2 linked regions of the Homo sapiens genome follow. Changing the gene in region 1 together with any one later gene gives a genetic interaction. Each region holds a gene or a part of one and is shown in the gene's direction. Other genes may lie near its edges.

Region 1 (3,828 bases):
GCTGGAGTGCAGTGACACAATCACAGCTCATTGAATCCTCAAACTCCTAGGCTCAAGCAATCCCCCCATCCCACCCCCGCCCAGCATCCCAAGTAGCTGGGACTACAGGTGTGTACCACCACATCTGGCTGATTTTTTTATTTTTTGTAAAAATGGGGTCTCACCGTGTTGCCCAGGCTGGTTTCGAACTTTTTGGCTCAAGCGATCTGCCTGCCTCAGCCTCCCAAAGTGCTGGGACTACAGGTGTAAGCCCCAACATGTCTTTTAATAGGTCTCTCCTATATCAGCCTTTAACCTTTTTTAGCCATTCTGCATACCATTGATTTGAACATTATTTTCTTTCCTCCCTTTTTCAATGCCCCATCCTTAGCATATCTGTAGAATACACTCCTCACTCCCATCCTGAAACACACACACACATGCACAAACACCCTGTTACTTGCTTCTTAGTTAGTTTCAGCTCTCTTGATCTAATCCTTGTCGTTCCTACACATCATGATCCTTCCATGCATGATACCTGTTTTATTTCCCACTGTCACTGCCTTTCTTTTTAAATCCATCTTTGAAAAGCTAGTTCAGTTGTCACTTTCTTTGTGAGGTCTTCCATTACTATTCGAAAATATAATGATCTTGTTTTTTCAACAAAATTATACAGCCTTGTAATATCCCTAGTATGTAAAGCAGATGGTGTAATGGAGACAGATGGGGTTCTAGCTTTAAGACCAGCCTAGAGCGTGTGATAGTGGTTAAAGTGAGATGATGAGGGCCTCAACTAGCACTTGATATTAGGGGTGATTATATAAATGTAAGAAATGTTTAAGAGGTAAAATCGACATGATATATTGATTAGATGTGTCTGTGGAGAGGAAGTCGAAGTCAAGGGAAATAATGACTGGCTAAATGTTGTAATACCAGTGGACATAAAGAAGCAGGTTCATAGTGACTGGCTTTGGGAGCCAAAGAGATTTTTTAAGTAGAGATGGCTGCTGGGTGCAGTGGCTCATGCCTATAATCCCAGCACTTTGGGAAGCCGAGGTGGGCAGATCACCTGAAGTCAGGGGTTCAGGACCAGCCTGGCCAACATAGTGAAACCCTATCTCTACTAAAAGTACAAAAATGAGCCAGGTGTGGTGATGTGCACCTGTAATCCCAGCTACTTGGGAGGTGGAGACGAGAATCACTTGAACCCCAGAGGCAGAGATTGCAATGAGTCAAGATGGCGCCACTGCACTCCCGCCTGGGTGATGGAGGGAGACTCCATCTCAAAAAAAAAAAAAAAGTAGGGTTGGCTAGCAGGCAATTGGATTATAACAAGGTGAAATTCAAGGACAAGGCAAAGAATAGCCATATCTTATCAGTCTTAAGATTCATTAATTTAAGTGGTAGTTATGTGTCTAAAAAGATGTGTTATTGTTTTTTTACAGTCCTTCATTACAGTTTGAAGCTGCTTGGGCATTAACTAACATAGCATCAGGAACTTCTGCACAGACTCAAGCTGTTGTGCAGTCTAGTAAGTAAATTCCTTACTGTCTGAACTTTTTGTGTTTTAATGATGGCAAGGAAGTAGAGTTTTGTAATAAAGAAATTTTATCTTGTAACATTTTTTAAATGATGACTTTTATAAGTTACTTTTGATGACCGATATCTTTTTCATAGCCGTCATTAATTTATCATGAAAAATTTTTAATTGTGGTTATTAAAAGAAGAGTAGAGTTTTATCTTTTGGAGTAGACATCATGCTGTGATAACAGGATTTTAAATTCCGTTTCTGATATCTTCAAGATGCTGAATGGCTTCTGCCTTTTAGCTTATGACATATTTTAAATTTTACTTTCCTCAAGATGGGCTAATAATTATTGTTAAATGACACTGACACAAGCTCTTTAGAAAAGTACTAGATATCACCACGTACGTTATTATAGTATGGGACACTTAGCTAATTTTAGGTGTGGTAATCAAGGTGATTTTAAGTAGCATGTGATATGGCAGTAAGTTACATTGAATCATGTATTGAGAATACTATTCTCACCAGACCCACAGGTGGCTCATGCCTCTAATCCCAGCACTTTGGGAGGCTAAGGCAAGCAGATCACTTGAGTTCAGGAGTTCAAGAACAGCCTAGGTGACATGACAAAATCGTGTCTCTACAAAATATTTAAAAATTAGCATTGCATGGTGGCGCATGCCTATAGTCGCACCTACTCAGGAGACAGAGGCGAGAGGATCGCTTGAGCCAGGGAGGCAGAGGTTGCAGTGAGCCGAGACTGCACACTGCATTCCAGCCCCGGCGACAGAGTGAGACCCTATCTCAAAAACAAAGGCTGGGTGCAGTGGCTCAAGCCTGTAATCCCAGCACTTTGGGAGGCCGAGGCGGGTGGATCACGAGGTCAGGAGATCAAGACCATCCTTGCTAACATGGTGAAACCCTGTCTCTACTAAAAATACAAAAACAAAATTAGCCGGGCATGGTGGCGGGCGCCTGTAGTCCCAGCTGCTTGGGAGGCTGAGGCGGGAGAATGGCGTGAACCCGGGAGGCGGAGCTTGCAGTGAGCCGAGATCGTGCCGCTGCACTCCAGCCTGGGTGACAAAGCGAGACTCCACCTCAAAAAAAAAAAAAAAGTTATCATGTGACCCAGCAGTTCTACTCCTAGGTGAAACCAAGAGATATGAAAACATATTCATACAAACACTTGTACATAAATATTCACAGCAATGTTATTCATAACTAACCCAAATGTTCATTAACCGAGGAGTGGATAAAGTGAATGTGGTGTATACAATGGAATACAATTCAGCAGTAAAAAAGAATGAAGTACCAATACCTGTTACCACATGGATGAACCTGAAGAATGTTAAGTGAAGTCAGACCCCCCAAAAAACACAGTATGATTTCATTTGTATGAAATGTCCAGAATAGGCAAATCTGTAAAGACAGAAAGCAGATATTTAATGGTTGCCTGCCGCTTGGGGAATGTGTGGCAGAGGAACAAATGTGGAATGACTGCCTTAAGTATGAGATTTCTTTTTTCTTTTTTCTTTTCTTTTTTTTTTTTTTTTAAGACGGAGTCTCGCTCTGTCGCCAGGCTGGAGTGCAGTGGCGTGATCTCAGCTCACTGCAACTTCCGTCTCCTGGGTTCAAGCAATTCTCCTGCCTCACCCTCCCAAGTAGCTGGGACTACAGGCACACACCACCATGTCCAGCTAATTTTTGTATTTTTAGTAGAGACGGGGTTTCACTATGTTGGCCAGGATGGTCTCAACCTCTTGACCTCGTGATCTGCCCGCCTCGCTTCCCAAAGTGCTGAGATTATAGGTGTGAGCCACTGTGCCCGGCTGAGTATGATATTTTTTTTTTTTGAGACAGAGTCTTGCTCTGTCACCCAGGCTGGAGTGCAGTGGCACGATCTTGGCTCACTGCAACCTCCGTCTCCCTGGTTCAAGCAGTTCTCTGCCTCAGCCTCCAAAGTAGCTGGGATTACAGGCGCCCACCACCACGCCCGGCTAATTTTTATATTTTTAGTAGAGACAGGGTTTCACCATCTTGGCCAGGCTGGTCTTGAACTCCTGACCTGGTGATCCATCTGCCTCGGCCTCCCAGAGTGTTAGGATTACAGGCATGAGCCATCATACCCAGCCAAGATTTCTTTTGAGGTCCTGGAAATGTTATAAAATTAGATTGTGGCGATGTCCTCACAACTCTGTATAAATATGAAATGTCATTGAATTACACACTTAAATGTAAATTTATTGTAATTATATCTCCGTAAAGTTGTTAAAACTGAATTAATTTAAATTTTAAGTAAATAATACAAGTAATACACAGATACA
Region 2 (2,501 bases), on another chromosome or scaffold:
CTCCCAGCATGGGGAAGCGTGAGGAGTTGCCCAGCAGTGAGCAGCCCCCCTCACTCCTGGCCCCATGAGCCGCAGCCACAGGCAGCAGAGGAGGGCTAAGGAGAGGAGGAAGCCTCAAGTCCATTGTTTATTACCCCGACTCTTAGCCCAGCACACAGTAGGCACTGGAGAGGAATGATTCCCAGTTTAACCACACTACGGTACCTTTTATGAAGAAAAATTAGAGCATAAAATCTACTACAAGCTCCATAGGAACTCAAAGATGAGGGCAAAACTGTGAGCCAAGAAGCAGAGAAAGAAAATAGAACCAGTTATTCTTGATTTAGGGGACCTCAACCTTGGGTTCAGTCTCTGAGGACAAAGGGAAAGGTAGTTGTTGGCCTGCCTCTCGCCTGCACGTCACTGCTGGACTAGCTGTCGCATGTGGCTGGGAGCTGCAAGGCCAGTGCTTGAGGGGCCCCAGCAGTTCCACAGGTGGTGAAGCCTGAGTTGGCAGAGGAGGAGCCAGAAGAGAACTGCCCTTTCTGCACTGGTGGAAACTAGTTATTTATGCCATGTGGAGAGCCAGTGAGATAGATAGATAGTCTGTTTGTTTTGAGGACTTGGAAAGTTGTTCCTATGAAGCCTGGAGCTTGGATGGTTTTGAGAGGTTAATGGTGCCTCCACACTCACTCTTCCCTAGTTCCAGGATTACTGTCCTAGCAGCTAACGGTTCTACTCTCTTCCCCAGAGTGTAGACAGGCAGCAGGTCTCCCCACAGCTCTGAAAGGACCCTGGTGACAGCTACACCCTCAGCACCAGGAGCTGGCCTTCCTGATGAGGGAGGCTTCCAGGAAACACAGAATCCACATGACCTTAAGATTATTTACAACTCAGTCATGGTGCTGCTGTCCTCCAGGCTTACTGGCCCCTCCTGACTGGCATCAGGGGCTTCCTCAGGTGGTGGAGAGAGTTTACTTTCAACAACTAGTTTATTCAAGAAAAGAACTTACTGATTCCTCTGTTCCTAAAGCAAGAGTGGCAGGTGATCAGGGCTGGTGTAGCATCCGGTTCCTTTAGTGCAGCTAACTGCATTTGTCACTGATGACCAAGGAGGAAATCACTAAGACATTTGAGAAGCAGTGGTATGAACGTTCTTGGACAAGCCACAGTTCTGAGCCTTAACCCTGTAGTTTGCACACAAGAACGAGCTCCACCTCCCCTTCTTCAGGAGGAATCTGTGCGGATAGATTGGCTGGACTTTTCAATGGTTCTGGGTTGCAGGTGGGCACTGTATGGCTGGGTATGGAGCGGACAGCCCCCAGGAGTCAGAGCCTCAGCCCGGCTGCCCTGGTGGAAGGTACAGGTGTTCAGCACCTTCAGAAAAGGGCATAAAGTGGTGGGGGACAATTCTCAGTCCAGGAAAATGCATTGACCATTGCTGGCTATTTGCTTACCTAGTAAGAATTGGATTCATTTTTGACCAGATTATTCTTCTATGCTTTTTTGCAATAAATCAAATCCCACATATCTACAAGTGGTATGAAGTCCTGCACCCCCCAGGAGGCCTGTCCAGGCATGTCTTCAGAGGCAGGGTGGGTTACACTCATTTACCTCCCCTCTCCCCACCAAATTATGACACAAACGAGTATGTTTCCTCTCTAGAACCCTGTAATGCCTCCTCCCCCATCCCCAGAGCTCCTTACTGTAGGTCTTACCCTGGACAAGGATTTTTTCAAGTTGGAGGCACAGAACATGAGCAATCTGACATTCCCACAGCCCCTCAAACATGCAAGGCTACTAAGGCAGGAGGAGTATAAATGATGGATATTGACCAAGACCTGCTTGGACGGAGACCGCCATATTATCTGTTCTCTTCGTTCACAAAACAGCCTTCACTTGTCTCAGAATTTGATGGACACATACTGTGATGAGCAGGAGCTTCAGATGCACTCTTTACACATTTTGTTGAAATAAACCTCTACATTTGTAGAAGAGTTACAGTTTGTCATTTCAATCCATGCCCAGCCACCTCATTTCTTGTTCTGCTTTCAGCAGGGGCTCAGTGTGGGGCAAGCCCCTCCATGGCCCTGTAACACCTAAAGCCCTTTGTCTCCTGAACTTGCATAAAGATGATGGGTAGGCAGTAAAAAGCTGGCCTTGGCCAGCCCTGTCTTATCCGCTGAATCAAGGTCAAACTCTGAAAGGCTACAAATGCTCGGGAACCCCGTAGCAGAGGGTCAGTTTTTTAGTTTCTGTTGAGTTTTTCAGGATGGGAAACTTCTTCCTGCTGAGAGCTGGATGGGAGTCCTGGCAGGAATGTCCCCTCCAAAAGAGAATGTCTTTAGAGCAGGGACAAGAAAGACCACAGCTGTTTAGTGAGGATAACAGCTCCAGGCCTTGGAAGCCCAGAGCCCACTGTCCTCCTCAGAAGTCCCTTCTCAGCATACAGGAAGTTGAGAGTGCTCTGATAACTCAGTGTAAACACTGGGGCCGCATGGCCCTTGTTAGAGATTTGAGAG

The links.
Region 2: changes in KPNA3 (region 1) and ACACA together harm fitness more than expected from each alone (negative genetic interaction), as found in Homo sapiens cells (one large-scale study listed by BioGRID).

What each region holds. Positions count from the first base shown.
Region 1 is NC_000013.11:49,723,098-49,726,925, reverse strand, and holds part of KPNA3 (importin subunit alpha-4), read left to right. Parts: intron 1-1,424; coding exon 1,425-1,510; intron 1,511-3,828. UniProt on the Homo sapiens protein: Functions in nuclear protein import as an adapter protein for nuclear receptor KPNB1. Binds specifically and directly to substrates containing either a simple or bipartite NLS motif.
Region 2 is NC_000017.11:37,084,467-37,086,967, reverse strand, and holds the end of ACACA (acetyl-CoA carboxylase 1), read left to right. Parts: 3' UTR 1-1,976; downstream 1,977-2,501. UniProt on the Homo sapiens protein: Cytosolic enzyme that catalyzes the carboxylation of acetyl-CoA to malonyl-CoA, the first and rate-limiting step of de novo fatty acid biosynthesis.